Regions from separate parts of the Homo sapiens genome. Here all the other regions are linked to region 1. The links come from fine-mapping of genetic effects on gene expression. A gene starts in region 1. Each other region holds a variant in brackets. All regions are shown on one strand. Distances are from middle to middle.

What was found. PIP is the estimated chance that this variant, and not a neighbour inherited with it, causes the effect. A credible set is the group of variants that fine-mapping cannot tell apart.
Region 2: its variant is the best candidate, but not a certain one, in a credible set for the expression of SLC39A10 in follicular helper T cells (Schmiedel 2018, PIP 0.67).
Region 3: its variant is the best candidate, but not a certain one, in a credible set for the expression of SLC39A10 in whole blood (INTERVAL, PIP 0.61).
Region 4: its variant is the best candidate, but not a certain one, in a credible set for the expression of SLC39A10 in lung (TOPMed, PIP 0.89).

Annotation. Positions count from the first base shown.
Region 1 is chr2:195,652,281-195,660,426 of GRCh38, forward strand. SLC39A10 (solute carrier family 39 member 10) reads left to right here and starts at 4,946. Exons shown (of 10, transcript NM_020342.3): 1 at 4,946-5,001. RefSeq lists silencers at 5,215-5,264, 5,295-5,414, 5,615-5,714.
Region 2 is chr2:195,673,160-195,681,305 of GRCh38, forward strand. It overlaps SLC39A10 (solute carrier family 39 member 10), which reads left to right. Exons shown (of 10, transcript NM_020342.3): 2 at 6,873-7,891. The coding sequence starts at 6,884. Among named protein-coding and RNA genes, the nearest start is that of SLC39A10, 20 kb to the left of the region's middle. The variant AT/A (reference allele first, on the strand shown) is at 4,590.
Region 3 is chr2:195,863,768-195,871,767 of GRCh38, forward strand. DNAH7 (dynein axonemal heavy chain 7) reads right to left here. Exons shown (of 65, transcript NM_018897.3): 41 at 382-1,254. Among named protein-coding and RNA genes, the nearest start is that of DNAH7, 200 kb to the right of the region's middle. The variant T/G (reference allele first, on the strand shown) is at 3,810.
Region 4 is chr2:195,720,759-195,728,904 of GRCh38, forward strand. SLC39A10 (solute carrier family 39 member 10) reads left to right here. Exons shown (of 10, transcript NM_020342.3): 9 at 7,401-7,591. Among named protein-coding and RNA genes, the nearest start is that of SLC39A10, 68 kb to the left of the region's middle. The variant C/T (reference allele first, on the strand shown) is at 4,932.

The DNA.
Region 1 (8,146 bases):
CTAACACTTGTAATACCAGCACTTTGGGACGCCGAGGCGGGTGAATCACTTGAGGTCAGGAGTTTGAAAACAGCCTGGCCAACATGGAGAAAACCCGTCTCTCCCCCAAAATACAAAAACTAGCTGGGCGTGGTGGTAGGTGCCTGTAATCCCAGCTACTCGGGAGGCTGAGGCAGGAGAATCGCCTGAGCCTGGGAGGCAGAGGTTGCAGTGAGCCGAGATCTCGCCACTGCACTCCAGCCTGGGCAACAGAGTGAGACTCATCTTAAAAAAAAAAAAAAAAAGAAAGAAAATTTTAAAAAAAAGATAAGGGGTTATGGAGACCAAGGTTCTTATTATGCCGATGAAGCCTCCACCTAGCAGGCTTCAGAGAGAATAAATTGTGTTTCTTACCAGACTTTAAAAGACGCCAGACTCAGTTAATTCTCTCCTGGATCAGGGAAGAGACTTGGAAAGGGAAGGGGATTCTCTACAGCAGGGGTCCCCCAGCCACTAGACTGGTTCGGGTGCATGGCCTGTTAGGAACGGGGCCACACAGCAGGAGGTGAGTGTCAGGCAGTGAGCATTACTGCCTGAGTTCCACCTCCTGTCAGATCAATGGTGGCATTAGATTCTCATAGGAGCACAAACCCTATTGTGAACTGTGTATGTGAGGGATCTAGGTTGTGCAGTCCTTATGAGAATCTAACTAATGCCTGATAATCTGAGGTGGAACAGTTTCATCCCAAAACCATCCCCACCCACCCCCATCTGTGGAAAAATTGTCTTCCAGGAAACCAGTCTCTGGTGCCAAAAAAAGTTGGGGACTGCTGCTCTATAGAATGTAGATGTTTCCCACAAGAGACAGTTTTGCAAGGCCATTTCAAAACATGTCAAAGAAATATATTTTGGAGAAAAATACTTAGAATTCTTTCAGAGCCTGCTATCTGTCATGTTGGTATCATTGCTACAAAAAGTCTCTTTCATCAGTCTTAAGGTCTGTTTTAATGTTAATACTGGTCATCTGTGCCTGAATTTTTTTTTTTTTTTTTGAGACAGAGTCTTCTTCTGTCACCCAGGCTGGAGTGCAATGGCACAATCTCAACTCACTGCAACCTCTGCCTCCTGGGTTCAAGCGAGTCTCCCTGCCTTAGCCTCCCGAGTAGCTGGGATTACAGGTGCCCGCCACCATGCCTGGCTAATTTTTGTTATTTTTAGTAGAGATGGGATTTTGCCATGTTGGCCAGCTGGTCTCGAACTCCTGACCTCAGGTGATCCACCCGCCTTGGCCTCCATAAGTGCTGGGATTACAAGCGTGAGCCACCACACTCGGCCTGTGCCTGAATTTTAAAGTGAGGAGAATATAATGAGGCATGTTTAACCATCCATTCCCATCATGCCTGGTACTAGTGTTTCAGGTTAACTTTGGAATGCCCTTGGCAAAGAAGAAGTGACCATTCAGTTAGTTGGGAGGCTTAAAATTTTATTTTTGGTTCACAGCCTCTCTAGGCATAGCTTTGTCTAAAGTAAACTTTTAGGCCATGTAAAAGTAACAGTTTAAACTGGAGATGAATTTAGGAAGGGGTCTTTATCATTGGTTATTACTAATCTTGAATCACGGAAAGAACAAGTGAGTTTGAAAGGCCTGATTTCTTAGAATTAGTCGTGTTCTTTTTTTTGTTTGTTTTGTTTTTTTGAGACGGAGTTTTGCTCTTGTTGCCCAGGCTGGAGTGCAATGGCATGATCTCGGCTCACCGCAACCTCCACCTCCCAGGTTCAAGCGATTCTCCTGCCTCAGCCTTCCCAAGTAGCTGGGATAATAGGCATGTGCCACCAAGCCTGGCTAATTTTGTATTTTTAGTAGAGATGGGGTTTCTCCGTGTGGGACAGGCTGGTCTCAAACTCCGGACCTCAGGTGATCCGCCCACCTCAGCCTCCCGAAGTGCTGGGATTACAGGCGTGAGCCACCACGCCTGGCAGAATTAGTCATGTTCTTTATAGATTTCATTAAAGACTCTTAATTTTGTTGTGTATGATGACTATTTTCTCCTCTGTAAGAGGGAAACCCAGGTTTATGACATGGACTTCCTTCAGCCACTGCTAAAGATTGGGGTATGAAGTAGGTTTCTTATTTCCTCTTTTGTATTAATAGTTGGTTCTTTTCAAATCCTCTGAGGGGCAAAAAGACCCTTGGATTTACTATATCATGTCTCACAAAGGTAGACTGGTCACATTTGAAATTTTAGATATGTGAACTAATATTGTGGCTGAAGCAGCATGAATAAGCTAAACAGTGAAAGGTAAACCATTTACACATAATTCAGTACCTCTCTTTCCCCCAGGTACTGAAAATCATTTATACTATTTTTATAGTTGAGATGAGCTTCTTTATGAATCAAGTGAGGTGGCTGGAAAAAGAAAATGTCTTACACTTTCAGAAAGTTTTATGATTATAACATATTAGAAAGTCTTTACCCTAACATATTTCTTATATATAAAACTGGTAAAGATAAAATGAAATTCATATATTGTTGCTGTAGTGTCCATTATTTGACTCAGCAGGTGATTTTGTGTAAGCCTGCAAGTCATTTTCTGAGATTCCTTTTCTCAGTAGGAAAAGTAATATGCTAGTATGCAGAGAATCATTTATTCTATCTGATAATTTTGCTTGAAAATCTGCCCAAATCAGTGTGTATACACTTGAAAGTAAATAAATGTTTGGGTGAGTTTAAAAAGTGTTAGGAGACACAGTCTCTATTTTCAAGTTGCTTACCACATAGTTTTCTATAGGGATGACATTTAAAATATGTAACAATTAGTAAAGAATAGGCACCAACCAAGTAGAATGGGAGTGACTAATAAGAGCTGGGTCCAAAGGGCTCTATCTTAGCCAGGTATTAACCCACTAGTTCCTAAAATGTGGAGGTCTGGGGAATCTTGAGAGGAAGGACTGGCACAGGGGTGAGAAGCATGGGGGGATACCACTCAGAGTTGCAGCTGTTAACCAACTTGCATTGAAGTATTTCAGTATTTGATTAGTTGGTTCAGCCGTACTTGTGTGTACCAGCTGAACATTAGCCTTGTATATCCATAACTAAAAAAGCAGTGTAGGTGCCCTAAAATGTAAGGACTGCAAGCGCTATATCTTATTGATATTTGAAAGAAAGGTTATGTATGTTTTAAGGGTGTTGATAATAATGTGTTCAATAAAATAAGTATGAGCCATAAAATATCAAGCTAATTTGGAAGCTTCTTATGCTTTGCACACAAAGGATGTACTATCATGATTTTATGAACTCTAAGGACTTTAGTTCTAGGATGAACCTTAGAATATATTTAAAACGATCCCCTTAATTTATCAATGAATCTGAGGACCACAGCTATTGTCTCACATTTAGTGGCAATGGTGAGACTTGAAACTAGGACTCAGGCTTAATCTCTTTTCTCCACACCTCAGGACTTCTCCCTTTGTAAGCAGGAGTGAGGTCCATGCTCTGGCTTTCCAAACAAGGAAAAGGGCATATGAGTAGTTCAGTGTTCTGAACTACGTATGGCAATCAGTAGGCATTTATCAAGCACCATTTTCGTTGTTTTGGATGTTTTTTGTAGAGATACAAAACAAAAAATAACCTTCTTTCATGAAGGTATAATATGCAGGTTAGCGGGACTACCTAGCCGTCCATACTGAATGGGTTTGGAAATCCCAACTCTTTTCTCTACCTGCTCTGTGATACCAGGCAAGTTAAAGTCTTGTGTGCCTCAGTTTCCTACCTCACCGTGTTATGGTGATTAAATTAATATATATGTGGAGTACTTGACACACAGTCAAGCCTGCGATTACTGCTGTTCATGGTTTTATTTTCTCTACTAGACACCAGTAAGGCACCCCCAGAACTCGCTGTGTTAAGTAGATTCTGGTTGGATATAGAAACACAGGCACCCCAGGCGGAATGCAGATACGCCTCAACATGTGGATTAAGTAAGAGCCAGGAAGCAGAGTAATGAAGCAAAAATAAGACGTCCAGAGTCACCTTTTAAGAAAATGTGGGTTGGTGGTTGCTTAAGAGGGGAGGAGACAATTTAGATGGGATGTATGGCGTGAGCAAAGGGCAAGAATGAGCACGGTGTAGGCACAAGTCCATGGAACTGCTTGGCTGGATCGGGATTTTTTTGTCATAGAGTGTTAAGAAATAGTCGATCAGTTGAGGAGTAGAGGAGTGAAGACCTTGGAAAGTTGCCAAAAGCCTCGAGAATTTCTCTACATGTGTGACATGTTCTCAGGACTCAACTTTTTCTTTTAGGTTTGGAAGACCCGCAGTAAGTGTGCTTTAGAATTAAATGGGTGGGAAGGGGAGCTAGGCAAAACACCTCGCACTTAGCACTAAATAAAGTTCGCTGTTGCCCTAAGAGACTGAAAAGGTTACTTTAACAAAGGGGGCGGGGTTAACTTAACGTAGATGTTTAACTCGTATACAGATGAACATTCCAGTTGATCACTCTGAAGCTTTTTGGCTAAAGCGTTTGGGTTTAGAGCTTCCATTACTCATTCGCCTTGCCCAAGGCCTCAGCAACCGACGTTCGAAAGCCAGGAGAAAAGGCGAATGATAAAGGGCGCTCCACGCATGCGTTAAGAAGCCGCCCCAACTCCCCCGCGGCGTTCTTTCTTGGAACAAAACTAGCGCGGAGCCACGGAACTCCGCAGTTTGCGTAGACTTGAATTTCCTATTCCTCGGACGATCCATGTGGAATCCGTGAGTAGTGCGACTCCTTTACGCAACTGGCGTTATCCGAAGTGAATAGCTAGGTGGCGCGTGTACGCCCATAGCGTAGCACCCATAGGCGGACGGGGTGCGGCTGCGCAGGGAGCTGAGTGGACCTTGTACGCCGCAAGCGTAGCAGGGTGTCAGACGCGCCGGTTTCTGCGACGCAGTTAGCGCAGTCTGCTTTGGTGAATACACGATTTGGTGCAGCCGGGGTTTGGTACCGAGCGGAGAGGAGATGCACACGGCACTCGAGTGTGAGGTAACTATAAAACCCCGATTTGTTTACATTCCCTCCCCCAGAACCGGCCCCGTGCGCGGCGGAGACTGCGAGTCCCGGGACGGCGTGGGGGTAGAAAGGGAGAACAGAACCGGGGAGTCGGGGCTGGTTCCCTCGGGGATGCGGGCGCTGGGGTTCCCGCAGCTGCTGCAGTCGGCGGCGGCCAGCCGAAGCAGAGCGCGTGGTGGGCAGAGTGTTGGGCGCCGCGGCTCCTCGTGTGCGGTCTGGGCTGCTGCGGGCCGCGGGATCGGGAGCCGGCGGCATCCACTTCGCGTGCGGAGCCTCGCGCCCCCCTCACCTTCCTGTGGAGGTTGGCGGAGCCTCGCGGGCCGCGCCCGGGGTGGGGGAGTGACCGCTGGGCGGGTGGCGGCGGTTAGGGGGCTGCGCGCCGGCCGCGGATGGCGTCGCAGGCGCGGGCGGGCGAGGCTTTGGGGATCTGTAGGCAGGTCTTCGGGGGCTTGGCGACCAGCGCCCCGGTTTTTTCTTCTCCAGTCCTTCTCTCTGGTCTGTAATGGGGCGAGGGGACCCCGGGATGGAGCCTCGGCACCGCTGTTCCGGACCGAGGCTAACGGACGGCGGCGCCTCTGCTCCTACTAGTTTTCTCCCGGACCAACCGAAAAGCCGAGGCGGAGCGCGGGGGTGTGAAGATCTCGGCCTGCTGGGGGTCCCTGGAGCTGAGGGTGAGGGTGGGGCCGGGTCGGTGGGACAGGCCGGGTGGGCCGGAGGTGGCGCGGCCGCACGGCTTTGTTCCGGAAAGCCCTTAGGTGGAGAGCGATGTGGGGCGCGGCAGGGGGATCGCGTAGAGGAACCTTCGCGCACCGCCTCTCCGGGTCTGGGAATCTGCTGAACTCCTTGCCTCTCCTGGGGTCCCTCGAACGCCCCAGCTAAGAAGGGCGGGGGCCTTGCCAGGGCGCGAGCAACATGACGTTCAAGGTCTTCCTGTGGCTTCTGTAAAGAAATGTTCACGTGGGAGCCTGTCCACATGGGCTGTACTAAGGATCTGGCACGAGGAAGAAATATCACTGCAGAACCTGAAGCCCTCCGTTGGAAGGGTCGTTCACTCGAGTACCTATTCTAAGTAACAGTGACACAAAACACATGTTAGAAAAAAACAAAAAGTATGGTAGGTTATACTGTTTTTTAAAAGAAACTTTTATTTATGCCTTTTGCTGTTAAGTCCTCTAATTTTACATTGGAACTGAGTCATTCTTGGAGCAAAACTAGAATAGGTTTGTATTTGTTTTCTTTTTGGATGTGTATCTAAATTGTACATAATTAAGAAAAAGCAAGTAATGGAAAAGCTGGAGATGTAGAACTTAGTTCCTTCTAACTTAGTATGCAATTGAAAGCCTCAAGTCAAGACTCCTGTGTATTGTTTTGTATTAGGACTCTATTGTACAAATATTTGAGTACCTTAATATGAGTCAGTTACTTTTTCTAGATCTTGGATCCATGCCAGACAACGCACATTCTGCAGACACTGGTTACTCCAGTGGCTCCTTACTGGAAACATATAATATCAGTGATAAGTGCTGTGAAGAAAATAAAACAATGATGTGCTGGTATGGATTTTTAACTTTTTTATGTGATGAACCACAGAATGATGGTTTTAAATGTATGAAATACATAGAATTGCAACAGAAACCAGTTATGAAATAATGAAGATATTAAATATGACATCTATATTTTAGTAAAGCATTAGTGAGGACTGTAAATGATCTTTAAAGAATTTGGCTTAAATTTAATCTAAAATTGCTATCAGGTATTTCACATCGCTGTAATTTTTGCCTGCATTCGTAACTGAAGAGATAAGTAAATGTCAGAGGTTAAGATAAATCTTTTTCTTTTTTTACCTGTCCATATTTACAAACATTCTGCGTTCCGTACATAGACGCCTGGATAAGAACCCCTGTGCAAGAATGACTTTGGTGCTACTTTAAAAAAAGTGGTTGGGGAAGACCTCATAGGAAATGACATCAATAATAGATTGCATGATAACCTATACTAGTTCTTACTGTTACCAATTTAAATTCTAACTGCTTAAAAGCTAACACGGTCCTTCCCTTTTTTTGAGCACCTGATTTGAAGTACTTTGAGTAGGCCTCAAGTGTCGTATGCAAGTACTAATCTAGGGGGTGTGCCTTTTTCAAAAGTGATTTTTGGAGAAGATAGGATGTAGTATTATAGCAAGGAAAATTCAGCATCTGGGATGATCATTTCCTTCTGATTAGAGAAATTTACCTTGTTAATATTCTGTTCACCCAACCCTTCTACCCTCAGTGTTGACCAATACTGGAAAAAATTTAGGGCTTTGGAGTGAAATTTTAAAAGTTCAAAACCTTGATCTATTAATTAGTTTGCTTACCTTGAGGAAGTTGCTTATCTTAATCTTCTATTTGAACTTCAAGTACAAAAACCCTACTCACGGACTTAACTGTGACCATTAAATGAGATAACCAAAAGGCTGAAGATGATAGTGAGTTGATTTTACCTTTTTTCTACATACAGATGTTTCAGTTCTTTCATTAGTGGTTGAAGGTCTGCGTTCTTTTTCTCCCTCCACTCCCTCCTTGACTACCCCCAGAATGAGCTTTGATGGTCTCTACTGGGCCTTTGGGGGGGATACATTATCCTGTTGTTTTTGTTCTGTTACTTATATATAATACTCATGGATTTATTTCTACTTCTCTTCCATTTTCTAATTTATAATAACATGTGCATCTTGTTTTCCCTGCCAAACTAAATTTCGTGAGGGGGTACATACTGCACAGTTTTTTTTGTCACATACTGCTTATGACACATGAATATGCAGAGCTTGTCAAGCTCTTTAATTAAGTTTAAAATGCTAATTGAGTGAATCAAAACTTAACCATTATGGTTAGGCTAAAAATGTCAGCTTGTGTTTATATAGTGCTTACCTCAGTATTGGAAATGCCATGAGTTTAGTATCAGAAGGACATTATTACTAGTGCATTTTAAAGTGATACCAGTCATAGTTGCAAAAGAAAGTACACAATGGGAAATGGAAGAGAAATGTAGGGAATCAAAACAACTAGTTTTTTCCTTTATAACGGAAGTTTTATAATTCATCTTTTATGTAAGTGTAATTCTCATTAAAAATACCCTA
Region 2 (8,146 bases), 21 kb after region 1:
CATTCAGTTGACTAAACTATTATTTATTAATTTATTTTGAGACAATGTCTCTTATTGCCCAGGCTGGAGTGCAGTGGCAAGATCAGGGCTCACTGCAGCCTTGACCACCCAAGCTCAGATGATCCTCCTACCTTGGCTTCTGACACGCCACCATGCCCAACTAATTTTTTTTGTATTTTTTTTGTAGAGATGGGGTTCTGCCATGTTGCTCAGGCTGGTCTTGAACTTGCGCTCAAGATCCGCCAACCTCTGCCTCCCAAAGTGTTGGAATTGCAGGCGTGAGCCACAGTGCCCAGCCCAAAGTATCATTTTAGAGAAATGGAAGTGTTTGGTAATTTATTTGTATAAATAGGCACTCTCAAATGTTGTCTAGCTTGCATCAAACTCACTAGAAAGGCTGGATAAGTCATTGCTAATTTATATGTGTAAATAGGCACTCTCAAATTTTGTGTAGCTTGCATCAGACTCACTAGAAAGGCTGGATAAGTCATTGCTGGGTCCTATCCCTAATGTTTCTGTTATAGTAGGTCTGGGTGGGATGCAGGAATTTGCCTTTCAGATTTCTAGCAAGCTTATGCTGCTCTCACAACCACAGTTTGATTAACCACTGATGCAGGTTATGTGGTATCTTTTCAGATTTATAGAAAAGTACACAGAAGAATAATCAAGCACCTGAATCCCATTATCTTGCTTTAACAAATATTAAATGTTTTATCATATTGCATTAGATCCCTTTCCCTTTTTTAAAGAAATAACACACTGCAAATGCAGTTAAATCTGTGTACTTCCTCTATCAGCTGATTTCCCTCCTTCCCTTTCTGAGAAGATAATGACTCCAGAATGTAATCATCCCATGTTCTCTTGCTACATGAATATATACCCCCAAATAAGTAATTCTGCATGTTTTAAGATTGTCTGTAAATTATACAGCATGTATCTTTTTGCAATTTTAAAAATTATATTTCTGAGATTATTGCATGTTAATACAAAGTCCTTCATAGTCACATTTATAACTGCAGTGTAATCTTTAAATAAATATACCATATTTATTTATTCTAATGATGAGCATTTAGGTTGTAGCAGGCAACATAATGGTTACACAGCTGACCACTTTTCCTTATTTTATTTTATTTTTGAGACAGAGTTTTGTTCTCGTTGCCCAGGCTGGAGTGCAATGGCATGATCTCGGCTCACTGCAACCTCCGCCTCCTGAGTCCAAGCGATTCTCCTGCCTCACCTTCCCGAGTAGCTGAGATTACAGGCACCCGCCACCAGGCCTGGCTAATTTTTGTGTTTTAGTAGAGATGGGGTTTCACCATGTTGGTCAGGCTGGTCTTGAACTCCTGACCTCAGGTGATCCACCCGCCTCGGCCTCCCAAAGTACTGGGATTATAGGTGTGAACCACTGCACCCGGCCTGCTTTTCTTTATTTACCTCCTTTTTTCTTGAGGCCTCTTATTCCCCCATGTTCTGTGAGTATTGCCTCTCCCACATACAGTCATATGCATTGCTTAATGCTGAGTATGTTCTGAGGTGCAGGCTTAGGTGATTTTGTCATTGTGTGAACATCATAGAGTATACTTAGACAAACCTAGATGGTGTAGCCTGCTATACACCTACCTATAGAGTATAGCCAGTTGCTTCTAGGCTACAAACCTGTTGATATACTGAATACTGTAGGCAGTTGTGATACAATAGTAAATATTTGTATGTTTAAACATAGAAAAGGTACAGTAAAAATTCAGTATAAAAGATTTTAAAAATGGTACACCAGTGTTGGGCACTAATATGAATGGAGCTTGCAGGACTGGAAGCAGCTGTGAGTGAGTCAGTGAGTGGGCAGTGAGTGAATGTGAAGGCCTGGGACATTACTATACACTACTGTAAACCAGTGATTGGCTTTAGCATGGGCATGTGGTAGAGACCTGACTGATCAAAGATACGTAAAGAGAGGCTTGAGGGAAATATTTTTCTCCCTGGATAAAAAGAGAGACATGAAGATGAACCTTCCATCCAAACAAGATTTCTGAGGAGGAAAAAAAATAAAAATTGTATTTTAAAAAAGATAAATCTTCCAGTTTTGAATATGATTATGCAAGGTTATCTTGGGACTCTGAGGGTAAATTTGAGCGTGCTTGGATTTTTGGTACTGTCCTAGAATCACCCATTTCTCCTGACTTCTTTTTATGTGAAAGTTTTCCTCTGTTTTACCCACTTTGGTTGAGTGTTCTGTTATTGCAATAGTTCACATTAGAAAAACATTTACAATATTGTAATAAGGATTCTCTTTTTTTGAGACATAGTCTCGCTCTGTCGCCCAGGCTGGAGTGCAGTGGCGTGATCTCAGCTCACTGCAAGCTGCGCTTCCCGGGTTCATGCCATTCTCCTCAGCCTCCCGAGTAGCTCGTACTACAGGCGCCCGTCACCATGCCTGGCTAATTTTTTTGAATCTTCAGTAGAGATGGAGTTTCACCGTGTTAGCCAGGATGTACTCGATCTCCTGACCTCATGATCCACCCACCTCGGCCTCCCAAAGTGCTGGGATTACAGGCGTGAGCCACCATGCCTGGCCCCAGTAAGGATTCTTGAATGTGTCTTTGCGTGCCTAAGTGCAAGGGTAATTAAAATGGAACTTGGGGGCTGTAGAGTGTGTTCATATTTGGCTGTAGTAAATGTCAAGTTGCTTTCCAAAATGGCTGTACCAATATATACTTCCACCAGACGCATAAGGTAGTTTGTTTCTTTATATTAGACCTTTACTTAACATCTAGTATTGTGAGATACTAATTTTTGCCTGTTACTGTCTTAGAGCCTTATCTAGATTTGAATTGCCTAGATTATTAGTCATCATGTTGCTGTTTTACCAACCTGTTTTATGTTCTTTTCATAGTTGTCTATGTAGTAGTGGAGTTTTTTTATTACTATATGTGCTTTATATACTCTGGATACTGATGTTTTATATACATTGTTTATATATACACATTGCAAATATCTTCTAGTATATGGCTTGCTATAAGCTTCCCCCTCCCCTGCCGCCACCGAGACAGAGTCTTGCTGTGTCTCCCAGGCTGGCAGGCTGAAGTGTGGTGGCACAATCTTGGCTCACTGCAACCTCCACCTCCCGAGTTCAAGCAATTCTCCTGCCTCGGCCTCCTGAGTAGCTGGGATTATAGGCGCCTGCCACAGCGCCTGGCCTATAAGCTTTTTTTTTTTTTATAGTGTCCTTTATTATAGAGTATTTTTTAAAGAATTTAGTTAATCAAAAATTTTCATCATGATATGTGCTTTGTGTCTTGCCTAAAAAATATTTCCCTATCCCAAAGACATAAAGACATTCTCTTACATTTTCTTCTAGAACTTGTTGATAATTTTGCTTTTCACATATAGGTTTTTAATGTTCTTGGAATTGACTTTTGTGTGTAGTGTGAGGAAGAAACATTTTCACAGTCAATATTATTGATGCTCTTTCAGAACTCTGTTCCACTCCACTGGCCTATCTACCCCTGTGCTAGTTCTATGTTATTTTCGTTAGTATAATTTTATAAAAAGAAGTCTTTAATACCTTGCTAATCTTCTGAATTGTCTTGATTGTCCTTGGGTTTTTGCTTTTATGAGTTTTTGAATGTGCTTATGAAGTCTCACCAAAACTAAACAGCTACCAGGATTTTAACTGGCATTGAGTTAAATTTGTATATACACTTGGGAAGATTTTATGTACCTTATGCAGTATATCCCATCTATTCATGTAGATGATGTGTTTCTCCAGGTTTTTCAGTTCTTTGCTGTCCTTCAATAACATCTTAATAAGTTTTTCCTTTTAGTGGTTTTATATGTCTTGTTCTAATTAATTCTAGAAACCATACAATGTTGTTTATAATTACATTTTGTGATTGGTTTTCAGTGAAGAAAATTTGATTTTTATAAAACTTTGTATTGAAATAGACTGTGTTCAGAAAGTACACAGAGCATAAGTGCCATGAATTATCACAAAGTAAACATATTTACATAACTACTACTGATATCAGGAAAGACCATTACACTTTGCAGTCCCCTCCATTCTGGTCTTCTCCCAATTATTACCCTCTATCTCTCTTTCAAAAAGTAATCATGGCCAGGTATGGTAGCTCACACCTGCAATCTTAGCACTTTGGGAATTTGAGTTGGGAGGAGTGCTTGAGGCTAGGAGTTTGAGACCAGCCTGGACAATAGAGCAAGACCCCAAAAAGAAGAAAATTAAAACTGAGCGTGGTGGCACACACAGCTACTTGGAAGGCTAAGGTGGGAAGATCTCTTGTGCCTGGAAGTTTAAGGCTCCAGTGAGCTATGATTGCGCCACTGTACTCTAGCCTGGGTGTCACAGTGACATCCTGTCTCAAAAACAAACAAAAAAAAATCCACAAAGTTTAGTTTTATTCCTTTTTACCTTTATATAAGAATTATACTGCTTTCTTTGGTGTTTGTCATTTTTTTCCCAATATTTGTGAAATTCATCTATGCATGAAGCTGTAATTTCATTTTTATTCCTGTGTGATAGATTTTTCTGTTTCATTTATCATTTTGTTGTTGATTAACATTTAGGCTTTTATCAG[AT/A]TTTTTTTTTTTTTTTTTTGACCAGAGTCTGTCTCTGTTGCCCATGCTGGAGTGCAGTGGCACGATCAGGGCTCATTGCAACCTCTGCCTCCTGGGTTCGAGTGATTCTCCTGTGTCAGCCTCCCAAGTAGCTGGGCTTACAGGCACATGCCACCACGCCTGGCTAATTTTTGTACTTTTAGTAAAAATGGTTTTACCATGTTTGCTAGGCCTGTCTTAAACTCCTGACCTCAGGTGATCTGCCTGCCTTGGCCTCCCAAAGTGCTGGAATTACAGGTGTGAGTCACCACACCCAGCCTTTTTTCAGTTTTGACTGTGATGAATAATGATTACGTGAATATTCATGTTGGTATTCATGTACATGGATTTCTGTTGGGCATATACCCCAGATTAAAATTGCTGTGTAAGTACATAGGCTTACATTCAGCTTCTGGCAGATCTTGCCAAACAGTTTTTCAGAAGATACAATCTCTAATACTACTGTCAGTACACAAGTTCCATTTAACTCTATATATTCTTGCCTACTTTTGATATTGGCAGTATTTTATATTTCAGTTATTTTCATGGGGTATATAGTGGTATCTAATTGTGATTTTAATTTGGTTTCCTGAAGACTTCTGAGCTGAACATATTTTCATTTGCTTTTTAGGAGTTTGGCTGCTGTTATGAAGTGCTTGTTCAAGTTACCTACTCATTTTTTCATTGGGTCGTCTTATTGTAATTTTCATATTGATTTATAGAAGTTCCTTATATATTTTTGAGTATACATTGTGGTAGTCTTCTCCCAGTCTGCAGCCTGCCTTTTTAGTTAGGTTTTTTTTTTTTTTTTGGATGTCTCTTGATGAAACATAAATTCTTAATTTCAGTGTAATATATTATCAATTTTGTGTTCTATCTCGAAGGTCTTAAAATTAGTCTCCCAAATCTTCAAGATCTGCGCTTTCCAGTACAGTAGCCAGTAGCCACACGTCTGTTGAGCACTTGAAATACAGTTAGACTGAATTAGGATGTGCTGTAAGTGTAAAATACATGACAGATTTCAAAGACATAGTATTAAAAAGAATGTAAAATATTTTAATAATTTTTATATTGATTAGATGTTGAAATTATAATATTTTGGATATAATGGGTTAAATAGAATAGTATGAAATTAGTTTCATCTATTCTGGAAAACTTCAGAATTACATAATTGGCTCTTATTATATTTCTAGATTCTTGAAGTATGCTTGTCCAATAGAACTTTCTATAATGATGGACATGTTCTGCGTCTACGTTGTCCAACATACTAGCCATTTGCTACATGTGGCTGTTGAGCAATTAAAACATAGTCAGGGTGACTGAGAGGCTGCATTTTAAATTTAATTTTAGTTCATTTAAGTACCCGTATGTGACTAGTGGTGGCTACCATTGAATTGGACAGTTCTGGACACTTTATCATTTTAGCATTTCTTGTTTCAGATTTATGTTCAGGAGCTATTAGCAATTGATTTTTGTAATGATGTGTGAGGTAAGGGTCAGATTTTATTTATTATTTTCTTTTGTGTGGAAACCTAATTGACCAAGCACCAAGGAAAAGACCATCCTTTCCGGTTTTTAGCTTTTGTCTTCTGTTCCTTTAGTCTGTTTGTTATTGCACCAAATACCACAGCATCTTTGATAATTCATAGAGTAAATGCTTCAATTTTGTTCCTCAAGGAATACATCTTAGCCGTTCTTGGCCCTTTCTATTTCCACATCAATATTAAAAACAGTTAATCAGTTTTCACAAAATTCTGAGATTTTGACTGGGGTTGTATTGGATACATAGCTTATCCAGTCATAACATGATATAGCCATCCGTTTATTTAGGTCTTTTATTTCTCTCAGTAATTTTCTGTCAATAATATTTCTCTCAATAATTTCTCTCTTTTCTATGTAAAGTTCTTGTATGTCTTTGGTTAGATACATTCCTAGCTATTTGCTACTGTTGTAAATGTTACTATTTTTGAGTTTTATTTTCTAATTATTGCTGATATATAGGAATATAATTTATTACTGTCCTTATATTCAGTAACTGTACTAAACTAACTTATTCTTAAAGATTCTTTAAGGCATGCTGCATAATTAATTCTACCATTTGTGAATAATGACAGTTTCACTTTTCTCTGGTTCTTAACATATTTTATCATGAAGGAAATGGAGTAAAACTTTTTTTAGTGGATTGGCAACTTCCAGAGAATTAGATTGTTTTGAATGTGTCTAGGTAGAAACTAATACTTGTCTCTCTCTTTAAATCTCTTTAGGAAAAATAGAAATGAAGGTACATATGCACACAAAATTTTGCCTCATTTGTTTGCTGACATTTATTTTTCATCATTGCAACCATTGCCATGAAGAACATGACCATGGCCCTGAAGCGCTTCACAGACAGCATCGTGGAATGACAGAATTGGAGCCAAGCAAATTTTCAAAGCAAGCTGCTGAAAATGAAAAAAAATACTATATTGAAAAACTTTTTGAGCGTTATGGTGAAAATGGAAGATTATCCTTTTTTGGTTTGGAGAAACTTTTAACAAACTTGGGCCTTGGAGAGAGAAAAGTAGTTGAGATTAATCATGAGGATCTTGGCCACGATCATGTTTCTCATTTAGATATTTTGGCAGTTCAAGAGGGAAAGCATTTTCACTCACATAACCACCAGCATTCCCATAATCATTTAAATTCAGAAAATCAAACTGTGACCAGTGTATCCACAAAAAGAAACCATAAATGTGATCCAGAGAAAGAGACAGTTGAAGTGTCTGTAAAATCTGATGATAAACATATGCATGACCATAATCACCGCCTACGTCATCACCATCGTTTGCATCATCATCTTGATCATAACAACACTCACCATTTTCATAATGATTCCATTACTCCCAGTGAGCGTGGGGAGCCTAGCAATGAACCTTCAACAGAGACCAATAAAACCCAGGAACAATCTGATGTTAAACTACCGAAAGGAAAGAGGAAGAAAAAAGGGAGGAAAAGTAATGAAAATTCTGAGGTTATTACACCAGGTTTTCCCCCTAACCATGATCAGGGTGAACAGTATGAGCATAATCGGGTCCACAAACCTGATCGTGTACATAACCCAGGTCATTCTCATGTACATCTTCCAGAACGTAATGGTCATGATCCTGGTCGTGGACACCAAGATCTTGATCCTGATAATGAAGGTGAACTTCGACATACTAGAAAGAGAGAAGCACCACATGTTAAAAATAATGCAATAATTTCTTTGAGAAAAGATCTAAATGAAGATGACCATCATCATGAAGTAAGTATAAAAAGATGTCCGATAGCTGCTTCGTAATTCTCACATAATTGTGGTGCATTTTAAAAACAGGATAAGTAACAGTGGAGTATTAATCATATTTAAACTTATTTCCATATGTTTACCTATGAAATATCAGGTAATGTTCATGAACAGAATACATTAAGGAATCAGAATCAGTGTAAAGATTTTTAAGTATCCGGGCGCGGTGGCTCACACCTGTAATCCCAGCACTTTGGGAGGCCGAGGCGGGTAGAT
Region 3 (8,000 bases), 210 kb after region 1:
CTCCACCTACCACTTCCTGAGTGTTCCAACATCCCCTCTTGGTTCCCTTAACCCTGCCTACCCCTCTGTGAACAGTTCCTTCATTATGCTTTCTTCGGTGAAGGGTTCAAGGTTGCTCTGTGCTTCCTGTCAGGACTCTGATACACAATTTTATCATAACACTTCCTATAATATATTGAAGTTAGTGATCACATATATTCTTAATAAATACTTTTCTATTATAATTTCTTGAATTATAATTTCATAAGATATAACTGATCAGAAGATTCTGCTAAACAATATTTTGGGGTAAACTACAGGTTGGGAATCTATAAAATAAGTCATGATGATAGTGGAAATTCAACATTTCTAGAAGTCTATCTAAAATGTACATGACAATACCTGAAACCAGTCAATGGTACAGCAGTTAACAAGAGCAGGGAACTTTCTAAGACGATTCCGAAATGCATCTCCAATGGGACTCATGGCAAGGACCACATGCAGTTGGCTGCGGCAATGATCAATAAACATGTTGAAAAGGGCTATGGGGCTGCCATCTGTTTGCTTGGTTTTATCCCGCTGGCGATCTAACTGACGCATCTTATCACATATCTCTTGCTTCTCATCTAATGCAAAGAGATTTGGAATCTCCCCAGCATTTAGCAGATTACTGACATCTTCCAGAAAAGACTCTTCTTTAATTTGAGTATCTGTAAACAGGAAGACACCCTGCATCTCACCTTCCGCACATTTCCTTAAGATCACTTTTAAATCTTCATGCCATTCAGTAGTATCATACCCCTTAGAGATTTCAACTTGGAAAACTGAATAATCAGCCATGTGGGCAGCTAATCTGGTGACAGACTGCCTTCCACTCCCTCCAACCCCTACTAGGAGAGCATGGCTGCGAGGCTGCTTCAGGATCCTGGAAATTCTGCTGATGTGCTCTATGGCAAATCGAAACAAGACAAGGTTCATGGGTTTTTTGCTTATATTGTTGTATTCTTCTAGGTGAATTTCTACTATCATTCGAAGATTATCCACATCTGCGATTTCTCTGTAGTTGGTATCCTCCCTCTTGGGATCATGGAAATCACAAAACATTAAGCTGCGTAAGTCATCTGCTTCCACCATGCCATCATTATCAAAATCCAAACGCTGAAAAAGCTCATGAAAATCTTCATACATGTAGTTTCTCAAAATTTCTTGAATGTAGTTGATGAGCCAGCTTCTGTCTGTATTGTCCAGAAGGCGGTCATAATACACTCGAAGGACCTGTATAATAATTAAAAAGCAGCTTTAGAAACTTTCTTCTGATTTTTAAGAAAGTGTTATTATATCTGTGCTAATCTCAGGTAATAAAAATATTAGAAAATTTCTGCAGGTTTTATTAAAAGTATATCCAAATAATCAGGACTGATTCACAATAATGTTATTTTAAATGTTAATTTTAACTCTATATTTAGAATAATAAGGTTATAGTCAGTTATCAATCAATGAAAGGTAATTTTGGGGGTGGGAGCTGAAGCAGATGTAGAGATGCTAAGAGAATTAAGGCCTTGAGAAGTTAGTGACTGCCTTTGCTGGCTGCTCAGATGTGGATAGCAGAGCTGGGCACCAGTACCCAGGGGGTACCCAACACCTTTCCAGTGATGTTTCCTTTTTCTAAGATAGATAACATTTTGAAAGTTATTGACAAATCAATAGTTTTTGCTTTTGTTTTTGTTTTTCAAAAAGCACATTTTCTAGAACAGGAAATGTCTTGGGTAGAGGGAGAGTTGTTTGGGATACCTGTTAATTATTTTTGTTTTAAGTCGTTACAGAGAGCAATCTACTAAAATAAATCTCCGGTTATATGCACATGTTATGGGACTGCAAGAAACATCAGGCTTGCTACATGTAGCAACTGTTTTCTTAAAGAAGTGTGTCCCAGGGGTACAGTCTATTTTGGACTGAATTGTGTCCCCCCAAAATTCTTATGTTGAAGCCATAACTCTCAATGTGACTGGATTTGGGGATAGGGCCTTTAAGGAAGCAATTAAGGTTAAATTAAGTCATAAGGGTAGGGCCCTAATCTTATAGGATAGTGTCCTTATAAGGAGAGGAAGAGGCATTAAAGCGCTCTCTCCCTCTCTCTCTCTGGTTCTTGTTTCTGTTGGGCAGCCCTTATATGCACAGAGGAAGGGCCATGTGAGGACACAGAGACAAGGTGGCTTTAGCAAGCCAGCGTGAGAAAATAAATTTCTGTTGTTTAAGCCACTTAGTCTGTATTATTTTGTTAATGGCCAACTAATACATATATGCTATAAATAATGCATATTTCGTCAGTGGAACGTTGGATCCTTACTCTGCTCTACCATTTTGAGTAAATCACTGAAAATGTCTGCATCAACTTCTTCACCTATAAAATAGAAGTAGTATTACCTACCTCGCAAATCTCATAGATTTGGGGAAAAAGTAACATGACAAAATATGTGAAAACACTGTAGAATTCAAATAGATAATTACTGCAAATTGCCCTAGCATTAAGGTTAATGGTGTTCAGGAATCGTGGTTTTAGTGTATTGTTATCAAATTGATGATTTCATAGTGTTATCCTTTTTTTTTTTCACTAATAGTGTCTGCATAAGCAAATGGTATTATTTAAACTTCCTTCTTATTCCAACCAGTTCAAAAGTTATTTCTCTGTGAGACAATCTAATTTCCCAATACATGCCAATGGCCAATCTTTGAATTGAGGTACTTAAGATCTCAGACAATATTCCTAAATTAAGTCAACTTCATGTATCAGGATCAATGCCTAAGCATGAAACAAGTATATTATTATCTAGCTGGCAGTTTAGCAAGAACCTATAGCAGCATTTCTCAAAGACAGTCAACACATCTGCATTAAAATCATCTGAGGTACTTATTCAAAATGCAAATTCCTGGGCCCCACAGTGGATCTGTTGACTTAAAAACACAGAGGATGATTCCTGGGAATATCTTTCCATTTCTTTTTGTTTTTTCTTTTTCCTTATTTAAGGTACAGATATGGTTTGGCTGTGTTCCCACCTAAATCTCATCTTGAATTCCCACGTGTTGTGGGAGGAACCTGGTGGGAGGCAATTGAATCATGGGGTGGGTCTTTCCCGTGCTGTTCTTATGATAGTGAATAAGTCTCACGAGACCTGATGGTTTTAAAAAGGGGAGTTTCCCTGCACAATCTCTCTTCTCCTGTCTGCCACCATGTGAGAGATGCCTTTCACCTTCCACCATGATTGTGAGGCATCACTAGACATGTGGAACTGTAAGTCCAATAAACCTCTTTCTTTTGTAAATTGCCCAGTCTCGGGTATGTCTTTATCAGCAGCATGAAAATGGACTAATACAGGTACAACAATCTTAAGTGTACAGCTCAAAGAATTTTGGCACACAGTTATACATCCATGTAACCACCACCAAGATCAAGATATAAAATTTCCAGCACCTTAGTAAGCTCCCTCATGCTCACTACTGTTGGTCCCTGCTTTCCTCCCTCCCCAACAAGGAACCATTATTCTATCACCACCTCTCACATTTTAAAAAGTTGACACTTAAAACTTTCTATTATAAATCTAAATTGTTGCAAAGGATATAATTTCTGGTATATTTATATTGTAATTTGTGCTTTGAATTTATTTACCTCAAAGTCTTGATTGCAGACTTTTAAAATTGAGATATAATTCATGGACCATAAAATTCATTCTTTAAAAGAATACAGAATCAGAATATTCACAAAGTTGTGCAACCATCACAACTATCTCCCTCCAGAACTTTATCATCACCCCAGAAAGAAACCTGGTACCCAA[T/G]AGAAGCTACTTCTCATTACCACCAGCCCTGGCCAACACTAATCTATTTACTATCTCTATGGAACTAACTTGCTTATTCTGGATATATGATATAAATGAATCATATCATAGGTGACCTTTTGTGTATGGACTTTTTAACTTAGCACAATGTTTCTAGGTTCATCTATGTTGTAGGATATATGAGTATTTCTTTTTAGGACTGAATACAATTCCACAGTATGTATTTACAATATTTTGTTTGTCCACTCATCAGCTGATGGATATTTGGGTTGTTTCTACTTTTTGGCTATTATAAATAATTCTGCTAATAATATTCATGTACAAGTTTTTGCATGGACATGTATCAGTTCTTCTGGGTCCACAGTTAGGAGTGGAACTGCTAGGTCATATGGTAACCCTATGTTTTAACCTTTTGATGACCTACCAAACTGTTTTCTATATTACATTACTGCCAGCTATGTATGAGGGTTCCAATTCTTCCACATGCTCACCAACACTGTTCTATTATTCATCTTTTTTTTTTTTTTTTTTTTTTTTGAGACAGAGTCTCGCTCTGTCACCCAGGTTGGAGTGCAGTGGTGCGATCTCGGCTCACTGCAAGCTCCGCCTCCCGGGTTCATGCCATTCTCCTGCCTCAGCCTCTCTGAGTAGCTGGGACTACAGGTGCCCGCCACCACACCCGGCTAATTTTTTGTATTTTTAGTAGAGACAGGGTTTCACCATGGTCTCGATCTCCTGACCTCATGATCCGCCTGCCTCGGCCTCCCAAAGTGCTGGGATTACAGGTGTGAGCCACCACGCCTGGCCTATTATTCATCTTTTTTATTACAGCCATCCTATTGAGTGTGAAAGGTACTTAATGGCAGTTTTGATTTGTATTTCCCTAATGACTAATCATGTCCTTATTGGCCATTTGTATATCATCTTTGGAGCGATGTCTTTGAATCCTTTGCTCACTTTTAAATTGCATTATTAGTCTTTTATTGTTGAGTTATAACAGTTCTTTATGTATTGTGGATACTAGATACTTAACAGTTTATATGATTTGCAGGTATTTTATCCCATTCTATATATTGTCTTTTCATTTTTTGGATGGTGTTTTTTGAAGCATAAAATTTTTTAATTTTGATGAAACATATTCATCTATTTTGGGGGTCTTGTTTTTGCAGAATATCTGTATTTAACAAGCAAACCAGGTGATACGTGCATTAACTAATGTCTCAGAGCCATGGAGAAGCCAAAGGGAATGAGTTGTCAGTTTTATACCTTAGAAACCATTTAGTGAAATTATATAAGGTTATCTAGTATGATAATGATGTCTGGAAAGGAAAAAGACATGTAAAGTAGTCTCTAACATATATTAAACCCTGAAGAAATATTTTCTGAGTGAACAGAAATAAAGCACAAATTAGTGTTAAGTTCAATTGTTGCAGGACTTTTCCTTAGTTCAGCTAAAGGTGGGGTCCTTGTTACACAGCCATGAAAATTTTGCCTCACAGACTATTTGAATGGTGAGTAAAACAGGTTTTATTGAGTGAAAGTGAAGAAAAGGGGGAAACAGGGACTCTCCACAAGGCCAGCGTCCCTTCTAGAGTGCTTCCCACCCTGCAGATTGAATCCCAGGTTCCATCCAGGAAGAAGAGGGGCCAGGCTCCTCCCCACTGCAAACAGCATGAACTTCTGTGGTTCCACCCCAGTGCACTGGCTGGCTGGAGTTTCTCGGGGGATCCCTTCCCACCTACTGTCTCACAATTACCTCATATTTTTAAAGATGTTGAGAATAATGTACCAAACATCCTTCTTGGCACTGCAGTAAGAAAAAAAAAAGAGAGAGGAAAATCTCTGCTCTCATGGGGCTTGCCTGCTATCTGAGGGAGATGAACAACACATATAACGAATGAATTCTACAACATGTTGGACGTTGGAAAATATTATGAAAAGAAGTAAAATAGGACAGGATAAGAAAGACTGGAACTACTAGGATAGGGGAGGGGAGTCAGGCTGTGGTATTAAAAAGCTTCAACTAGAAAGAAGAATTTGATCAAAGGCAGGGAAGGAGCTATTCCAGAGCATCAATATCTGGGGGAAATATTGCAGGCAGAAGAGAATAGCCAGGAGACCTGTACTGCTGGTGAAAGGGGGATGAGGATGAGAGCAGGAGGCAGCCTGAGGGGAACAGGCTAAGAGGAACACATCCCAGATCCCATGGGCCACTGGACTTTTATCCGAAATTCCTCTGAATGAAGTAGGGTGCTAATACAAGGTTTTGAGCTGAGGACTAAATTCATTATGTTTTATATAGGTATGTATAAATATGAAGTAGTAAACCTCACTAAATGCCCAAAGAGCTCAACAACCATTATCAAAACTCAATAATCTGACATCTAAAGCAGCACAGAATCTAAAAAACTCTTAAAAGTAATTATGTCTAACACATATACAATAGCACAAACAACCTATTCCCATGATTGGAAGAAAGCACTGTTATGTATAATCTCAAGTGACAGAACATGTCATGTGTAGCAAGCCTGCCTGCCTTCCTCTCTTTATGCACTCATTCATTCACCAATATTTATTGAGTGTTTTCTGTGTGCCAGGCACTGGGAAAACCAGCGCATAAATATAACTGCTATTCTCATAAAGTTTCTATTATTGCAAAGACAATAAGTAAGCCCCAAATTTAGAAGGTGTCAGGTGATGTTCAATGTTATGAAGAACAAAGCAAGGTAAGCAGTAAAAAATCAAGGGGGGTAGGGATGGCCCAAAGCAAGCTTGCATGAAAAGGGGGTATTTCAGCAAAAATCTGAAGGAAGGAAGTGGGCAAGCCTGCAGATAACAGAGAAAGAGTGTTCTAGGCAGAAGGAATATCAAGGGCAAAGTTACTGAGGTGGAGGATGCCAAATGCTTCCTCGTGAGTTAGATTCACCCATGACAAAATGCTGCCTTCAGCAATGCAATCTGCTATGGTTTCAATGTTTATGTTCCCCCTAAATTTATATGTTGAAATCCTCACCCCCAAGGTGATAGTATTGCAGTGGAGACTCTGGGAGGTAATTAGGTCATGGGAGCAGAACCCTCATGAATGGAATTAGTGCCTTTATAAAAGAGGCCAGAGAGCCCATTGCCCCTTCCACCATTTGAGGACATGGTGAGAAGGCACCACCTATAACTAGAAAACAATCCCTCACCAGACATGAAATCTGCCAGTGCCTTGATCTTGAACTTTCCAGCCTCCAGAACTGTGAGAAATTAATTTCAGTTTGTTGACAAGCCACCCAGTTTAGGTACGTTTTATAACAGCCTGAATGGACTAAGGCATGCTCCTTGAATGAATTCAGCATCATCCTCCCTGTTCACTTCCCCCACACTCTCCAGCTCTCAGTACATTTCTATTACCCATGTGGCCCCCAAACACAAGCCTGCATCCGTATCCTGGGAAGTGGGTCCCATTCAGGCAATTAGGTAACCTGCTGTGGAGTGCTATAAGAATCTCTACATCATCCTTTCCAAAGAATCACTTTTGGAGACCTTGTTGTGGCCAAAACATGCAAGTGGAACGGATCTTCACGTGGACATATATTTGAATGTGTGATGATTTAGGAATTCAAACTGTATATCTAAAAAGTCCAGAGAAACTGGATTTTTAAAAGACCTTTTGAAATTTATATCTCTGTAGTACATGGTTGTAACACAGTAGCACATTCTCGTGTTCTATGTTTCTTAACTGCATATTAAAATTAAAATAAGGGTCTTGCTCTATCACCCAGGCTGAAGCGCAGTGGTGCCATCATAGCTCACTGCATCCTCAAACTCCTAACTTCAAGCAATTCTCCCGCCTCAGCCTCCTGAAGTGCTGGGATTACAGGCATGAGCCTCCTCTACCACTTCTTATAAGAAAATGCTCATCCACATACCTATTCCCAAGAGAGCTTAAATACATTTTTATATAGTTTCTATGCTCTCAAGAATTTGCTTTGCAATTCTTTTGGCATCTAGTAATACTATACAAATAAGTAATGTAAAAAAAAAAAACCACATTCACTTCTTATAAAAACATCTCCTTAAAAAGTGTTCCATTTCAAATTTATTTGAAGTCAAACTAACAAGGATTAAACTACTTAAGGGAAGGCGGATCACGAGGTCAGGAGATCGAGACCATCCCGGCTAAAACGGTGAAACCCCGTCTCTACT
Region 4 (8,146 bases), 68 kb after region 1:
ATCCAGACCAAGTCATCACCGCCTTTGTGGTGTTTTTGCTTAGACAGTTTTCATAGTCTTTATATCTCTGGTTTTATTCTGTTGTAGTATATCATTGCCAGATATATCTGCTTAAATGTGATGTTCTTATGTAATTAAAGTCTTCCAGTAGCTTTCCTGACATATAAAATAGAGCTGGATTTTATATATTTTTTTCCCCCTGTAACAGGGTCTCCCTCTGTTGCCCAGGCTGGAGTGCAGTGGCTTGATCACGGCTTAGTGCAGCCTTGACCTCCTGGGTTCAAATGATCCTTCTACCTCAGCCTCCTGAGTAGCTGGGACTACAGGCGTGCACCACCATGCCCAGCTAATTTTTGTATTTTTGATAGATAGGGTGTTGTCATGTTGCCCAAGCTGGTCTTGAACTCCTGGGCTCAAGTGATCCACCTCCCTCAACCTCCTAAAGTGCTGGGATTACAGGTGTGAGCCACCACGCCCAGCTATGAGTCACACTTTCAATGACCTTCACTTCTTCTCTCTACCTAGCTTTTTAGTGTTACCTGCAGTACATCCTGTTACATGTTTTTCATTTCAACTAAATGCAATTCACCAAATGTGTAGTGTGGGTGCCTGAATCTGTTTCCTTGTTTATACCATTCTCCTACATGGCTGGCCCAAATACTTCTATTCCTAGTTTATCATGTTAAGAATCTTCAACTTTATTACTGTCTTTTACCTCATGCCTTGGATTACTGTTTCCTCTTAGTTTTATTGTTTGCTTTCTCGGGGTCCTTCACCCATTTTCTTGTTAGATGCCGTATTTCTTAAACTGTAGTTTTTTAATGCACAGATACGACGTCTTATGCTCTTCTCTAACTATCACATACTGCTGTTGGTCTATCACATACTGCTGTTAGCCTAACTCCACAAATCAAGGCTATCAGTTTTTATATATGAGTTAACATGTTGCCTCATATTTAATCTTTCACTTAAAAACTATTTTTAGTAATAGACTTGGATAATCACGCATACACCTCCATAATATACTAGAAAAACCTCCAACTTTCCTTCCTGTTCATCTACCCACTACCTGGTAAATGGAGTGTCAGGCTACTTCAAGTTTAAGTGTGGTTTTACTGAATTGCCATAACCTTGAAGGATTCACTCAGACACAGAATTGAAAACAAGTTGGAGATTAAGGATGGTTACCTTCTTACCACCCTTTTTCTGTCTGCAATTTCTCATTGAAGGAGTGACACACAAGGGCTGATAACCACATGTAGAACAAATGCATTACATACATTAATAGCTAGGGAAGCCCTTGATACCCAATGCAGAGCTCTGGTAAAAAACTGGAGCGGAGAACTCTGCTTGGACCAGGAACCCCTAGTGAGACATTCAGACCTCAGATGTCTACCTGTTTTATCCCACAAATCAGAGGCTGAGATGTTGCTACTGCTATGAGAAGATATGTCAAGCCAGAGTATACTGAATTTTGCTAGAGGGAAAGGAGTGGGCTTTTAGAAAATGTGCATTTTTCCTAATGTTAAATTGATGTAAACTATACCATACTGTAGCTGGATAGGCTACTAGGGAAGAAACAGTGTAAAGAAATGACCCAGCTTCCTCTTCTGGAGGTGACAGAAAGGGCTCTGGTCCTTGTATCTATCAACAAGTTAGGAAGTGGTCTAGGGACCATAAATAAAGGAAGTAAAAATATGATTGTGGAGCCTAGTTTTTGCCTTAAGGCACAGCAAAGGGCACTTTTTGTACAATAGGACCAGGTCAGTGTCCCTACTCTGATCAGATCATCTATTCTTACTCGGAGAGGAACAGGATGTGGAGAAAGGCATACAAGCTTCTTCCTCAGAACTCCCAAGCACAGGGAAAATCATTCCTCTATAGGTTGAGTTAGAAGCATGGGCAGATAGAGCCAGGGAGAAGTCCACTTCCCACTTTCTAGGTTAAGATGTTGACAAAGTAGTATAGTATGTCACATTTCAGGATAATTTATTTGATCTAAAACCTATTTTGCCCTGTTACATTTTTCATTATGAATTCTTAAAACAATTCTGAGATTTCCATACTGACCTCAGACCCTTGGAGGAAAAACATGTTTTCCAATTACATTGCAATACATGGAGACTGACCCTCAGTTGGTAATTCCAAGTTCTAGTGTTCCCTTTCTGAACAGATTGCTGTTTTTCCCGTGGTATATTCACTGAGACACAGAATTGAAAACAAGTTGTTTTAGAGATTAATGATGGTTACCTTCTTAGCACTTACCCCTTTTTCTCTCTGCAGTTTCTGCAGGTGTTTTTTGTAGTTGTGTTTAGGAATGTGATACGTAAAGACATATCCTTAGAACCATAGAATAACATATAGTTCAGGGAATTTGACTGTAAGAGACATGAAGAAATTGAAAGCATTTGAGGAAATAGCAAACTCACATCTCATTTTGTGTTTGCTCTCTGGTGTGGTAATGGGTTAAATTGCCTGAATTACTAAGTCACTACTCTCTTTTCTGTGTTTGCCGAACTTATGTAGCTGAATTTAAGTTACAATACTACTTTGTCTTATCTCTTCACTGTTTTCCACCTTCCTTCAATAAGGAACTGTATAAGCATTTGAAGAATAATTTACAGAAAAGCCTGTAGTAGGAGGAGGCCATCTATAGGTAATGTAATGTTGGGGACCATCCAGAGGGCAGGAGGAAGACAGCCGCTTCCAGGTTTGAACTCAGGACAGATCAACCACCTGAGTGTCGTCTGCACTCTCAGAACAGCCCCAGAGTCTTGGACTCCACCAGGGTTTCACAAACTCCTGCCGGAATTCTGAGACTCCCACAGAGAGGCTTTTGACTGTGGATGGATGCAGAATTATTCTTGTGGATGTTGGGATATGAGTGGGTCACCTTCCATTTTGACATCTTGGTCTATCACAATTTCCCAAACATTCTTCTTGATGTTGAGTAATGTGTTTCAACTTCAAGGAAATAACATTTTGATTAAAAAAAAAAAATACAGCCATGGGGCAAGGGTTAGAAAACTTACCTATTGGGTACTGGGTACTATTGTGTAGTATACCAGGGTGACCAGTCATACCCCCACACCTCAGCATCACATAATATACCTCTGTAACAATCCTGCACATGTACCCCATGCTTCTAAAATAAAAGTTGAAAAAGAAAAAAATATGTAGCCATATTATTAAGACTCAATTAAGAGAGGTTATAGTGTTGTACATTTTTCCTTTCTGTCAAATTAAGGATTACATAGAAATTTAAAATAAGATTTTCATAATGTGTTAAATTGTCCACAGGAAATTGAACATTCATTGTATACATTTATGTAGAATTTTAACATGTATACAACCATTATTTAAGACAAGAATAAAGAACCTTAAAATATATACATGTTTTAAAAAATCTCAGTAGTGGATGTTAACAGATGTTAACATCTGTAGCATTGGATCTCATTAGTTTAACAGCTTTGGCAGGCACACCTCATTCATTGTGCTAATGATATCCCTTGTCAGCAGGAAGGAAAGAATATTGATTTATCAAAAGATGAATAGATTTGCATGTTTACTATAAATCCCTGCTGTGAGGATTCCTTTGACTTAGTTTTAAAATGTTTATACAGGTTCTCACTGAGAAGGGAAATGAGGAAAAAGAGAAAAATATGCAGATACCTTTGAGAATTTATAACCTGAGATAAGACTACAACCAAGATAGATTTTAAAATGAAATAATTCACTTGATACAAAGATAAGTATACAAAAATCATTTGTATTGCTATATACTAGTAATCAACAGTTGAAAATAAAATTTTTAAAAGGATCTACTTATAATAGCATCAAAAATATGTAATATTTAGCTTAAATCTAACAATATGCATAGACCTACAAATCATCAGTAAAAGAAACCAAAGGAGACTTAAATGAAGAGCTATACCAGGTTCAGGGACCAGAAGACTATTGTTAAGATGTTAATTTTTTCCTATAGACACAGTGCATTCTCAGTAAAAAATCCAGCAGGCTTTTTTGCAGAGATGAACAGCTTTTTTAAAAATTTTATATGGAAAGGGGAAGGAACTTGAATAGCCAGTAGAATTTTGCAAAAGGGCAGCAAAGTTGATTTAAGATTTACTATAAAGCCACCGTAATCAAAACAGTTGGAATTGGTGAAAGAGTAGACACATAAAGCAGTGGAACAAAGCAAAGAGTCCTCACATATATGGCAATTAATCTTCAACAAAAGTACAAAGAAAATTCCATGTTGAAAGGATGGGATAGTATTTTCAACAAATGGCGCTGTAACAATTGGACATCTACATGCAATTAAAAAAAAAGGAAGAAAGAAAAATACCTTTGACCCATATCTCACTATAGAAAAAACAATGAACTCAAAGTAGGTAATCTAAATGGAGATTCTTAAAAATAGAAGAAAATATAGAATATCTCTGTGTCTTTGGGTTAGGCAAAGTATTCTTAGATACAGCACTAAGCATACTCCATTAAGGAAAACAGTCATAAAATACACTTCTTACAAATTAAAAACTCTTCACAAAAGACAGTTAACAAAAAGGGAAGCCACAAACTGGGACAAAATATTTGGACAATACATATCTGACAAAAGACTTCAATCATAGTAAAACAAACAGCCCAACAAAATAAAATAGACAAAAAGACTTGAACAAATGTTTCACTGAAGAAAGTATACAGATGAGATTTCAGATGCTGGATTTCAAATTGTGGGCTGTCAAGGATGTGGAACAGCTAGAGCTCCTATACATTGCTGGTGGGGATGCAATTTCTTATAAAATTAGAAATATGCTTAACTGTGTGGCCCAGTGACCCCACTTAATAGGTGTCTGCCCAAGAGAAATGAAAACTTATGTTGACATAAAAGCCTGTTTATGAATGTGTGCAGTGGCTTTCTTCATAATTGC[C/T]AAAAACAGTGAACAACTTAAATGTTCTTTGCTGGTGAATATAGATAAATAAACTATGGTTCATCTATGGAATATTACTGAGCAATAAAATAATTTTCTGATATACACAGTAACACGAATGAGTCTTACATGCATTATTCTAAGTGAACAAAATCTAAACTTGAAAGACTACATACTGTGTGCTTCCATTTAGATGATGTTCTGGTAAAGGCAAAATTACAGGAACAGAAAGCAGATTGTTGGTTGCCTAAGGGCAAGTGGCCTAAAAAAATTTTGGAAGGGTAATGAAAAAGTTCTAGAGTTTAATGGTGTTTATGGTTATAGGGTGTATGTGTTTGTCCAAATTCATAGAAGTCTACATTTTTAAAAAATGAAATAGTTGTGTAATTATACCACAGTTTTTAAAAGTATTAAATGAAAATAGTTCGCCTTGAATCTTGATTTGTTAATTCATGCTGTTTGGTTGTTACTTAGGAAGGAACTTAAACCATCTTGCTATGGCAACAAAGTTGGTGTATTTTGTACCCATGACACCGTTGTTCATTGAGTATTAAATAATGCTCATTTTTAAACGCATTATTAAATTATAAAAGGAAGCAATGCATTTTGTAATCTAAAAGACACTTCTGTAGTCTCAGTTTGTTTTACATAACCTGCTAAATGAAATTGCCTCTTTAGCACAGTTGGTGTGTGATTTATTGAAAACAAGGAGAGGAAATTTGTTAGGGAAGTTAGGGAGCTCTTTCCACAGAGAAAAAGCTGAGAAAGACTGGAGAAAATTAACGAAACTCCAGGAGAGAGAAGAGATAAAAGCTGATATTAAATCCGGGTCTCAGCAGGAGAATTAAGGTATTTAGGATCAGAGGAGAAAAGATGTAAGGAGAATAGCATTAGGTGAAAACTGGACAATTACAACTTAGAAACCATTGGTAGATAATCTCCTTAGGTACATTATCTTAACTTTCCAAAACAATGCTGCAGTGTTTAGTTTGTAGCAATTTGTTGGAAGGTAGAAATAAACCTTGCAGTAATTTCTTTATTGTTAACTTCTCCTTGTTATAGACTATGAACCTTGTAACCATGAGAGGTATAGAAGAATAATAGATCATGTATTTTTAGATACGTAGCTGTTAAGATCCTTAAGGGAAAGAAACAAGCCCAGTTAGTATTCTGTATCGCACCTTGCATATGCTGAGTGTTCAATAATTGATTAGATGTTTGTTCATGTAGTAACTGAAACAAAATTATTATAGTATGTAAAGCTAATGGGTTTTTTTCTTTCATACCTCTTCAAGGTGGAACAAGCTATTGCTTTCGACCCATTAGCTTCAATACTATTATTATCTCTAGCATCATTTTGTCCTTCCACTGACACTTCTCTGAGCAATATTTTTTTCCCCCTAATGTTCCAACTTCATTATTTTTCATAGGCACTAGTCAAGCTTGCAGATAATGTTCCAACTTTAGACAGATGAATAAGAAAAGTGCCTTTCTTCTTATTTGGAGGGAGGGGGTGGCGGGAGGAGAGTCCATTGAGGATCCTTAGAAAAAGCATTTCAGTATTTTCCCTCCTGTGAGTTTTTGTCTTACATCAGCTCTGTGGTCATGGATGATTTCACAGTCACCAGTGTCACCATTCTTCATCAGCACAGTTAGAAACAGACTTTGGAGTATGGCTTAATAAGAACCTGGCATTTGCTCTATTTTCAGCATTGTCGATGCTCTTCGGAGCCTCAGCCAGATATTTATGTGCATCATTGTAGAAGCACGGAAAAGTGGTAGGAAGAGCTCTTCATTCTTACTACATTTTTAGAATTTTCAGGATTAAAGTTTTTCTTTCTGGGAAAAAAAAATAACTGTAACCATAGCATAAAATATACTTAAAGCACCTGTTACCTCTGTTCTTCCTTAGGCCATTTCCCTTTGAAGAAAGGGTAGAAGTTCGAGCAGGGAGGTCTTGATTGTTGGTTACAAGAAGAGCGGTGACCATGTTTTTTTCTTTTGTAAAAATTTGACATTTAAGTTGTACAGTAGAATTGACTTTTTTTGTGAGTACAGTTCTTTGAATTTTAACATATATATAGATTTCTGTAATCACTGCCACCATCAGGATCAGAGTAGCTTTGTCACCCCCAACAACCCTTGCCCCGTGCTCTTCCTTTAGAGTCGCAGCTCTCCACCATCTCTGTCCCCTGGCAACCACTAACTGTTCTTCATTATTATAGTTTTGTCTGTTTCAGAATAGATATATAACCTTTCAGATGGACATCTTTCAGTATCATGCCTTTGAGATTCATCCAAGTTTTTGCATGCATTATGGTTTAATAAGTAAAATATTTTATATATCACATAAAATACTGTTATTAAAAGTGTGTATCTTTTTAATGCTGATTTTATTTGTTTTCTCCTTTCAGATTTGTGTTTTAAATCCTGTGGTTTTAAAACATTCCCATTGTTTCTTAATTGCAGGAGATTTTGCAGTTCTTCTTAAAGCAGGCATGACTGTAAAGCAAGCAATTGTATACAACCTCCTCTCTGCCATGATGGCTTACATAGGCATGCTCATAGGCACAGCTGTTGGTCAGTATGCCAATAACATCACACTTTGGATCTTTGCAGTCACTGCAGGCATGTTCCTCTATGTAGCCTTGGTGGATATGGTAAGATATTTTATATTTTTTTGTGGTACTAAACCTGCAAATGAAAGAAATCCTTGGAAGTGGTTTGAAGCCAAACTATTTTTGAAAATATAACTCATTTTAAAGACATAATATCCTAAATAATCTCTTAAGGAAGGACATTTAAGTAGGAGGTTTCCTTTTATGGAAACCAGTTGAGTTGCTGAAAATGTCTGTCCATCATGTTACTATTTAAATAATCATTAGTAGTAGAGTTATAATTACAGAATTATTATACTACTTTAAAGACTTTGTAATATTGGTGTAGAAGTGTTTTATTTTTGTTAGCAAAATTAATTTTTTGAGTTTGTTTTATGGCAAACAGGAGAGAAATACTATTCCTGTTAGGTAAGCCAGTCTTCTGGAAGGAAGTGGTATATATTCCATAGGATTTATGTAATTTCTCTTATTTCTAAATTTAGCTTAAAGTTAAATGTAAATGCTAACAATTTGTTTTATTTTGATTTTACTTTAATACCCCAAATATGTTAGACAGTGTATTTACAGAACTAGCAATTAGGTTTTTATGTTTGTTTG